2 separate regions of the Homo sapiens genome follow, and region 1 is linked to region 2. The links come from fine-mapping of genetic effects on gene expression. A gene starts in region 2. The other region holds a variant in brackets. All regions are shown on one strand. Distances are from middle to middle. Region 1 overlaps SUSD1 (sushi domain containing 1). Region 2 holds the start of GNG10 (G protein subunit gamma 10).

Region 1 (5,371 bases), 410 kb before region 2:
GGAGAAGATATATCTAGCTGATGACTTGTAGTGGAAGACACTATTTTTTCTGTTGCCTTCAATTTTAATTTACCATGCCTTGGATGGGATGATATATCTGGAGAGGTGCCTGAGGATTAGAAAAGAACCATCATGCTGTGTTTATTTTTCTACCTACTTTTTATTATAGAAAATCCAGAAAAGTAGCATTGTACTGGGTTTTTGGGCGGTGGAGTTGTGTTTTAATTCAATTGTTTGTGTTTACTTGAAGTTTGCAGTACAAAGTTGGAGACGTTGCTTAGTTTTGATGCAGATAAAATTTTCTTCCATTTTTGGTTCTTTTTGTTCATTTTGATGGGTTTTACATAGAGACATTTTAACACATTTGTACTTATACTACCCTTTTTCTTTGGTTGATTTAATAGTTTACCTTCATTAGTGATATTAATATTTTGATAAATATTACAAATTCCTACTCCAAGGCTATTTACTCTTTTGTTTTCTTTTCAATTTTTTTTGAGACTGAGTTTCATTATGTTGCCCTGGCTGGAGTGCTGTGGCACAATCATAGCTTACTGCAGCCTCAAACTCCTGGGCTCAAGCAGTCCTCCTGCCTCAGCCTCCCAAGTAGCTGAGACTACAGGTGCATGTCACCACACCCTGCTAATTTTTTCTTTTTGTAAAGATGAGGTCTTACTATGTTGCCCAGGCTGGTCTCAAACTCCTGAGCCCAAGCAATCATTTTTGCCTAGGCCTCCCAAAAAGCCAGGATTATAGGTGGGAGCCACTGCACCTGACCTACTTTTTTGCACTTAAAATTTAGTTTCAGGCTGGGCACAGTGGCACATTCCTATAATTCCAGCGCTCTAGGAGGCTGAGGAGAGAGGACTGCTTGAGTCCAGGAGTTCAAAGCTGCAGTGAACTATGATCATGCCAGTGCACCCCAGCCTGGGCGACACAGTGAGACCACTTTTCTACAACAAACAAACAAACAAAACCAAAACAAAACCACTTAGGTTCATTTGGAATTTATTTTGATGTCTGATATGAGGCTAAATTTACATTGTAATTTTTCTCCCCAGCTGTAAGCCAGTTCCCTATCACCTTTGGAACTACTGACCATCCATGCCACCTGGTGCATTTCTTTGGGTCTCTTTCCAGACTGTCTAGCTTTTTTTCACTGTTTGTCTGTCCTGTGCGTGTACTTTACTATTTCAATTGCTGTAATTTTATGATACATTTAATATTTTTTTTTGCAGAGCAAATTCTCCTTCATTACTTTTCCCCACATTTCCCTCCATGTGAGGATTTCTTTTGCCATTTGCTTCTAGCAGAGGAGGGATATTCCTGACATCCGAGGATGGTAATGAAGGTCTCTGTTCTGGTTCCTCTCCCATCTCACACACCCAAGGTGAAAGAGCTATATTTTCCAGCACAGGCAGGACCCATTTCTTGCCTTGGGTCTAAATCAGTTTAAATCAGTAACGAGGTTGATGGAAAGGAGAGCAGGTCTACCCAGGACATCAGTTTGGGAGACAAGGAAGAGCACCTTGGAAAATTCAGCTGAAAGTCAAGTTTGTTCCACCTCGAAATGTGGCTGAGAACCAGCCTGACGAGGCTTAGGCTTGTACATTGGAGAGAAAAAGTAGACTGTTTAAAATATAAGGCAGCGGCTGGGCGTGGTGGCTCATGCCTGTAATGCCAGCACTTTGGGAGGCCGAGGCAGGTGGAATCACCTGGGGTCAGGAGTTCGGGACCAGCCTGGCCAACATGGAGAAACCCCGTCTCTACTAAAAATACAAAAATCAGCCGTGTGTGGTGGTGCATGCCTGTAATCCCAGCTACTCGGGAGGCTGTGGCAGGAGAATTGCTTGAGCCCGGGAGGCGGAGGCTGCAGTGAGCTGAGATCACACCATTGCACTCCAGCCTGGGCGACAAGAGCGAAACTCCATCTCAAAAAGCAAAAGCAAAAACAAAAACAAAAACAAATAAAATAAAATATAGGGCAGGGAGACCTTAGGCAAACAGAGCAGAAAATGGTCTCAAAGTCACATGTTGATTGAACCAGATGACTGTGGTGCCTTGAAAACTGTGACTCTAGATTGGGAAAGAGTGACATCACCTGGACCAAGCAGGGGGATGGCCTTCCTGCTCGGTCTGCAGTTGCCTCTTCTGAGCTCAGTGAGTACTTTGTTCTGCTTCTCCTGTGTGGTTTTAAAATGTTAGCCA[A/C]GAGATTAGAGGAACTAGAATTATTACTCTTGGAGTAAAGAGCTGGTGGGGGCGGGGCGGGGTGGGGTGGGGCGGAGTTCTCACACAGAAAAGAGTGACCAGTTAATCTCCACCTTGGCTGAGAAGAGGAGACACGTAATAAAAAAAGTTAATTTTACTGTGACAACAAAACGTCACAAGTGAAAGGGCATTTCGGTGATAGCAAAGGGCCTGAGGGCAGTTCGATCTCAAAGGGGAAGGGGTACGTTCCCAGGGGACATGTGTGGGCTTTTCCTCTCTCCTCCATCACTGCCACAGGAATCCAGCTGTTGTCTTCTCAGCTGTATCCTACAGAATCTCTCTCTGGACTGCTCTTGAAAATAGCATAGACCTTCATTTCAACAAATGAGTGATGTGAGGCCTAGACTCTAAGCAGAGGCTTTTCCAGGTGACCTCCTGGGACACCTGGCAATGCCGCAGGTTTAGGAAAAACATGATCTATATTGCAGTGTCTAAGAGACTCTGGGAGAAATTCTAGACCTAACACTGTTTCATAAAGGCCACAGAGTTCTCTTACTCTTCCACCTGGTCTTAGAGCCTGGGTTTCTCGGTGGTCCGCCCTTGGCCCCCATCTCTCCTCACATACTTTGATACTGGCTCCCTGGTGGCCACGTTCACTCCTCCCTGTGAGCTGCCTCTGTATCTCCACCATGGGGTTTGCTCCTAGGCTCCAGACCTATGTTTCTAACTGCCTGCTGGAGGATTCCTTATACACTTCAACCTGAACAGACCTAGAAGTGAGCTGCTTCTCGTCTTCCCCCAGACTTGGTAAATGACATCACTGCTGACTTGGTTGCCAGATTCCTGCCGTCTCTCCCCTGAGCAAGGTTTCCGTTTGTTCCCTCTTCTCCATTCTCAGTGCTCTCACTTGCAGCAGACCTCGAGCACTTCCGACCTGGATTATTGGACAACCTGTATTTTTGCCCTTTTTCTATTCATCCTTTGATCAGCTCTCTAAGTTGTATTTTTGAAGTGCAGAACGGCTAAAAATATTTTTTTTTTTTTTTTTTGAGACAGGGTCTAGCTGTTGCCCAGGCTGGAGTGCAGTGGTGCAATCTTGGCTCACTGCAACCTCTGCCTCCCGGGCTCAAGCAATCCTCCCACCTTGGCCTCATGAGTAGCTGGGATCACAGGTGTACACCACTGTGCCTGACTAATTTAAAACATTTTTTGTAGAGACAAGGTTTCACCATGTTGCCCAAGCTGGTCTTGAACTCTTGGCCTCAAACAACCTGCTTGCCTCAAGTGCTGGGATTACAGGCATGAGCCAGTGCACCCAGCCTGCTAAAAATCTTTCAATGGCTTCTTATTACTTCTGGAACCTCAGATCTCTCAGATCTGACCCACACCTACCCCTCTAACTTGACCACCTACTTCTACTCTGCCAGACCTCAACCTTTCAGCCAGGAACTCCATGTAGTTCTATCCCTCCCTGCCACCACCTCATGCCTCTGCAGATGTCTATTTCCGTGTTTGATAGGCTCAGCTCCCTGCCTTCAGTTAGATGTTCCTCCTCACATCCACAGTGCTCTGTATATAACTCCATCACAGCTCTGGGCACTACCTTTACAAAACTGTCTCCATGATTACACTCCAAGCTCCCAGAAAGCAGAAAGCATGTCTTCTGTGCTTGTCTCCCCCAGCCTAGCACAGAGCCTGCGGCAGAGGTGGCTAATGGGTGTTTGTTGAATGCAGATATATGAATAATATATATAGTAGTGCTTTAACAACTGTAAAGGTCCAGGCAGGTCTAAGTTTTTATTTATTATAATTTGAGATTGAGGGTTTCTACCCCAAAGCTATTTTCTAATCTGGTAAATACAGTCTTGAGAATCTATTTTGGCCTCAGAGTCCTTCAGTTCACAGTGGCAGGGTTTAGGGCTAGGGTGGGGGGATTGGGGGGGAGGCATTCATACATATGTTTTTAATAGCTCTTTCTCTTTCCTTCCATCATGCCCTTCCTCCCTTGCCCTACTGAGCTGATGCAGTGATAGACTTTGAAGGAGGGGTGGTTTAGTCCAGGGTCTAAAGGGGATTCTTAAGGCAGTTCTTCCTGCTGTCCTCACTGTCTCCACCACCCAAGGGGTTTAGCATTTGCCTGGAATTCACAGCAATTCTTCTTGCACAAATGCATAAGGACCACTTCCCTACCGTGTTCACTTGGCCTAGCACCAGAGTTCCTGCCAGTACACAGCTGAGGGTTCTGCCTTTCCACAGAATACCAAGGCGCTGGATGCATTCTATAGTCAGGGCTCTTTTGGTTGCAAGTGACAGAAACCCAACTCCAACCAGCTTAAGCATGTGGAATCTGTGGGATCACAGAACTGGGAAGGCCCAGGATGGATCTTGTTTGGAGACAGCAAGCTTCAGTCACACGTGGTGTCACCACAGGCCCGTTGCTCTTCCAGCCATGAGGCCCTCTTTCTGCCAAATTCTTCCAGCCAGACCTGGGAGGATGGACATTGTACTATTGGCCTACCTGGTACTTACAGCTACAATCTAAGAAGAAGAATAAAACCCTCCAATCTTCTAGGCCTGGTGTGGTGGCTCACGCCTGTAATCCCAGCACTTTGGGAGGCAGAGGTGGGCGGATCACCTGAGGTGAGGAGTGTTGAGACCAGCCTGGCCAACATGGTGAAACCCCATCTCTACTAAAAATACAAAAATTAGCTGTGCATGGTGGTGTATGCCTTGTAGTCCCAGCTACTCGGGAGGCTGAGGTAGAAGAAGAGCTTGAACCTGGGAGGCAGAGATTGCAGTGAGCCAAGATCATGCCACTGTACTCCAGCCTGGGTGACAGAGTGAGACTCCATCTCAAAAAAACAGATAAACAACAAAAAATAAAACCTCCAATCTCCTAAACAGATTGCTCTTTTTGAGCCATCTTCTGACTGGGGAATGGCAATCCATAATCACTGGGCCCTGGGCCAGTGGGGATTTGGAGTACTGGGAATGCTGGCCCCATAAGAACCATATGGGAAGGAGAAGGGCCGCTCTCCACAGAAAAAGGGATGCTGAGCACTTACATATAAAGTATGTAACATATGAAAAGACAACACGTACGGACTCGGAGAATCTCAGGCACAAGGTGTCCCATCTTTGGGAGTTTCGCGATTACAGGGTT
Region 2 (5,371 bases):
AGGCTCCTCTAAAGGAGGAGTTCTTGGAAGGATACCAAGCATTCCTATAGCTGGGAAGGGATGTCCTCTATTATATGCTAGAAAATTGGTGTCCTGGTTTATTTTTCAGATAGCAAGTCTGTCAAAGAGAAGACACCTCTGGCTATGCTAAGCACATCCAACAATGAATGAGGATGTGAGGTAGACCAGACCCTGGAATGGTTGTGACTCTCTAAGGTATTGTCTGAGGGAAGCCCTGCCAAGTACCCCAGATCATACTTCCATGAGCGCACCTCTTAAATAGGCTTATTATCCTATTTGTAAATAAGCTTACTGCGAGCTCAGGCAATTCACCTGAATTATATGGCTCTCAGTTTCATCATCATTTTTAAAAGGTAGATAAGCACATCTTTCCGGCCAGGTGCCATGGCTCATGCCTGTAATCCCAGCACTTTGGGAGCTTGAGGCGGGAGGATCACCTGAGGTCAGGAGATCGATACCAGCCTGGCCAATATGGTGAAACTCCATCTCTACTAAAAATACAAAAAAAAAAAAAAAGCCAATTAGTGGACGTGGTGGCAGGTGCCCGTAATCCCAGCTACTCGGGAGGCTGAGGCAGGAGAATCGCTTGAACCTGGGAGGCAGAGGTTGCAGTGAGCTGAGATCATGCCATTGCACTCCAACCTGGGCAACAAGAATGAAACTCCATCTCAAAAAAAAAAAAAAAAGAATATCTTTCCTCTTTCTTAGCTACTTGGCGGGTAGACAGGCATCTGACTGGCTCACAGTTTTCCTTTCTACCTCATGTCCCCACATTGTCTTTGTGAATTTCCAACAACCCTCATTTCAGTTCCCTGACTTCTTCCCCTCAAACAGCCTTCTCCTCAATGCCAACAGATACAGTTACAACACCTGTAACTGCTCCACTTCTGAAATTTTACACTCCAGTATCCTACTCTCTGATCACAATCTCTCCTTCCCATCCAGGGTGCTGCCTCCTTTATTCTTCCTTTATTCTGCTCTGACCTCACCGAGATCACCAGGCATCACCTCCTCCCCTTCTGTCTCACCTATCACCAGGAGGCTGGCTGCATTCCTTCTCTATCCATCTAGGCTCAGCCTCTTTCTGGCCAGACCTTCACACGCCTTGCCCTCCGGCCCCACCTCCACCTTTCTGGCATACCTCCCCTGCTAACTTACTCCTCTTTCAACTACCGTTCACCTTCAGCACTCACATTCCAGGATGGTAAAGATTGCTGCAGGAAAAAAAAAAAATCACAAATATGACCAGCAGTCTCCCTTGTCACAGCAGCTGGGTCTTCAGTCACAGCGCATCTGCGTGCCTGCTCAGGGGCCACTCCCTTAGTCCCCTTTCCTCTGCCTTAGAAGAAAACCTGGCCTCCTATTTCACAAAGAAAAGTGTCACCATACAAGTTTAGCCCATATCTAGAAACTTATCTTTACACACACCCTTACCTTCTTTCTTCCTGTCTCAGAAGCTGTGCCACCAATCCCCCACCCCCCCGTAGCCCTGTCTCCTCTACCAGCAATTGGCTTCCATTTGTTTCTTCCCTGGAACCTAAAAATATAATTTGTTACTTCCTCTCAACCCTAAAACATGGCTTTTCATTTCCTAAGTTAAAAAAACACGTTATTTCCTCTTTAAAACTAGGTTTCTTTAAAAAGAAAAAACGTCTGCCTACCCTATGACAGTCCAGATTCTGCTTTTACTAACACATAAGCCACCAGACCTCTGCATTCCACAGCCCTCTCTCCCTTTACCCTGTTTATTATCTTCACTCCACTTAGTACATGAAGCGATGCTATGTATCCGTTAAGTTGCTGTTTACCTTCCCCTCCAGAACCACCCTATTCCCTGTAGCAGTGCCAGGCACACAGCAAAGGAGAAACTGAGGCACAGGGACTATCCTGGTTGTGTTCCTTCTTACAGATCTTCTGCAAATAATGCTGCACTCGTAGCTAAACACAGCTCTACAACAGACGCCTTTTAGCCAACTGACTAAACGCTGGACATGTTGACTGAGCCCCCAGTTTTTGGAAATCCCTACTTCCTTGCTCGGAAACCTTGCTGTCTCTTATTTCCTCTTCTCTAGGCCTTGCTCGGAAACCTTGCTGTCTCTTATTTCCTCTTCTCTCGGCCACCGGCCATCGGTGTGGCTGGTCCCCGGGTCCCAGGCTCTGAGCTCTGCTCTTCATAGAAGAGGCTTTTTCGCCCCAATGCACTTGAATGACCTCTTTCAGCCCTGGGCGCTGAGCTTCAGGCCATGAGGACAAATACCTCCCGGATGACTCCCCGGAGTCCCCAGGTCCGCAGCCGAACTCATCATTTCCCCAAACCTGTTCCCCCTCCTCTCTACCTCGGCGGGTGGCAGCGCCGTCCACCCTGTCACGACGACAGAAACCCGAGCATCCTGGCTCTCCTCCCTCTCGCTCTCATCCTACCAATCCATCACCAATTCGCCGCCCTGCGGTGGCCTCCCCAGCCCTGGGTCCACCCTCCCGGCCCGCGCGTCGCCGGCATCCCTTGCGCCCTCCGAGGAACTGACCACGGCCGCCTTCTGGAGTGGGCGCACCCCCAGGGACCGGGACCGACCACGACCGCGGGGCCCCCCAGGCGCGGCTTCCTCCCGTCAGGCCCGGGCCCCCGGCTTGCCCCGCGCCCTCCCTCACCGCGGACCCCACCGCCCCCGCGCCCCGCCGAGGCCTCGCCGCCGCCACCGAGTCCCCCGCTGGCGCCCGGTCCGGGCCGCCGGCCTCCTCTTCTCACGCCCCGCGGGCGGAAGGACCGGAGCGTGGGTACCCGGGGCCCGCACCTTGATCCTCTCCACGCCAGCCTCCAACTTGAGCTGCTCTACCAAGCGCTGCAGGGCGCTCGCGCTAGCCCCGGAGGACATGGCGGCGGCGCTGGGCTCCTAGGGGCTGCTGGGCCCGGCCGGGCGGGGAGGAGCCGCCAGCCCCGAGCGCGGGTGCCGCCCCGGGGCGGGGAAGCAGCTGCGCCCGCCCCGCCGCCCCAGCCCACCCGGCGCGGAGCCGCTTGCCAGAGACAGCGGGGACCCCAGCGAGCTGGCAGTGCTCTCCGCTCCTCAGCGCCTGAAACCTGGGTGGCACCTGCAGCTGGGCCTGGAACCGAGGCGGGGACCCGCAGAGCGCGGCGTCCTCCAGCGAAGCTGGCGCCCCTAGGATGAGCAGGAATCGCGAGGGCGTGGGACGCGAGGATGGAGTGGGCGGCAGCAAACACGCACCCCTGAGAAATGAGAACTGGAGCCAAGGTGTGACATGAGTTGGAGAGATAAGGGGCCTTGCCAGACAGTATCACCGGGGAACCAAGGAGAGTTCATAGGATTTTCATGAGGCAGCAACAGGTTTCTAAATGACCCTGTTACTGTTTCACGGAGATCCTACCAGTTGATTTGGTGGAGTATGGTAAATTGGATAAAATCCCAGACCCTGACATCTTTGTGAAACATACAGAATAAAATTAAATTCAGCGTTTCTCACTCTCATCTCACCATTTAACTGTCATCATTGTTTCTATTCTGCTGCTTTTTTTTTTTTTTTTTTTTTTTTTGAGACAGGGTCTTGCTCTGTCACCCGGGGTGGAGTGCAGTGGCGTGATCACAGCTCCTTGTAGCCTCCACCTCGTGGGCTCAGGTGATCCTCCTGCCTCAGCCTCCTGAGTAGCTGGGACTACAGACACACACCACCACGCCCGGCTAATTTTTGTATTTTTAGTAGAGACGGGGTTTCACGATGTTGGCCAGGCTGGTGTTGAACTCCTGGGCTCAGGTGATCCTCCCACCTCAGCCTCCCAAAGTGCTGGCATTATAGGCCTACTGCATTTTTTAATAAGTGTTTTACAAAACTGGGATCGTTACTATATTTAAAATTTTTGTGTTGCTTTTTTCCATGTATCATTAATACGTCATTATTCTTGTACACCATTGTATTTGTCAGAACTCACTTAAACTGAATATTGCAAAAGGTAATATATTGGCTTGTGTAACTGAAAAGTCCAGGGACTTTAAACTAGTGAATTCAATTACCCAAATAATAATTTTGGGGCTCTCATCCTCCTTGTTTTGATTCTGCTTTTCCTGAGATTAGCCTCATTTTCCTTGGTGGTAGATGGACTTCTCTAGTGGTATGAAGGAAGGCACCACACTTTCACTGTCCCCATCTAGCAAACCCAGGAAAAATAGTACCTCTTTTCTTTCTAATCGTTCCAGCAAAAATCCCCATAATGAACCTCACTGGCTGGTATTAAGTCATGGGCCCACCCCTGGCCCAATTACTCTTTGAAGGCAAGGATGTGTGGCATTGACGTGCTCAGATTAGCTGTGCCTGGGCCAAAGGGAGACTTGCACATTTGAAAGCCCTCTCTAGTGGCCAATTTCCTCACCACAAAGAAATTAATATATATCTTAGTAAAGAGATGAAAGTACATGTTGGGAACATTCAACAATCAATTCTGAGACTGATGAATAGGACAAAATAGAATGATTTCATATTTAAAAGATATGGCAAAGAACTCAGTGCAAAGATATACATACTGGATTAGGAAAGGCTCATCATAGATCGTGAGAGCTGGACTTTGGAGATACGTGTCTTGCAGATGGCTCAGAAGGAAGAACAGTCCAGTATGGAGGACAGCTGGAGGCGATGCACACATGTAGAGTGAATAAATTTAAAAATAGAGGAAGCTCTAGTGACTAATAGCAGATACAAAGTTGCTAGGGCCAGAAGTCATAGAAAACCTCACATACACACAAAAGTTTATGGTAAACAGTGGGATAGCCACAGGGTAAGGCATTTTGGGAATATTAATCTGAGATGAATGTGCAAAATGAACTGAAGTTGAGAAGATAAATGGCTGATGGTGGGGGAGTAGCTGGAATGAGGCCCTGGGTAGGACTGTTAGAGTAGGAATGAGGGGGAACAAATTTAGAAGACAAAATCAGTGGTACTTCATGGTGGTTATGAAATGCAAAGAAAAGAGGACAAAGGGTTCTGTAGCAGAGAGTGGGCCAGAACTAATGCCAAAACAGAAATTAGGAAACAAGACTTGGCTTGAGATGAGTAAAAAATAATGTGGGGTTTGGTTTAGGAGTAACGAAGTGACTTCCATGGCATTGCTACATGCCTTTAGGCTGCTGAAAATGTTTAGTAGCCAAGATGTTAATGTGAAGATGTCTCCACAGCAATGGCAGCTGAAATAATGAGATTACCTCAAAATCATTAGAAATGAAGGCTTTGGAGTTGCCCTCAATGAAGGGACACACGTCAGCCATGTCATACTGTATCAGCCACGAGGTAGCAGGAAAAGTCTAGGGGTGTGCTGTGTCTGCCTCCTTCATGCCCTACACACCCACTG

What was found.
Region 1: its variant is fine-mapped to the expression of GNG10 in whole blood (TOPMed, PIP 0.95).

Annotation. Positions count from the first base shown.
Region 1 is chr9:112,066,586-112,071,956 of GRCh38, reverse strand. The region is part of intron 12 of SUSD1 (sushi domain containing 1); the gene reads left to right. Among named protein-coding and RNA genes, the nearest start is that of LINC02977, 29 kb to the right of the region's middle. The variant A/C (reference allele first, on the strand shown) is at 2,209.
Region 2 is chr9:111,659,158-111,664,528 of GRCh38, reverse strand. It overlaps GNG10 (G protein subunit gamma 10), which reads right to left and starts at 2,924. Exons shown (of 3, transcript NM_001017998.4): 1 at 2,814-2,924. The coding sequence starts at 2,894. The region is part of intron 1 of DNAJC25-GNG10 (DNAJC25-GNG10 readthrough); the gene reads right to left. RefSeq lists enhancers at 1,864-1,913, 2,114-2,213, 3,284-3,343 and silencers at 2,504-2,623, 2,654-3,103.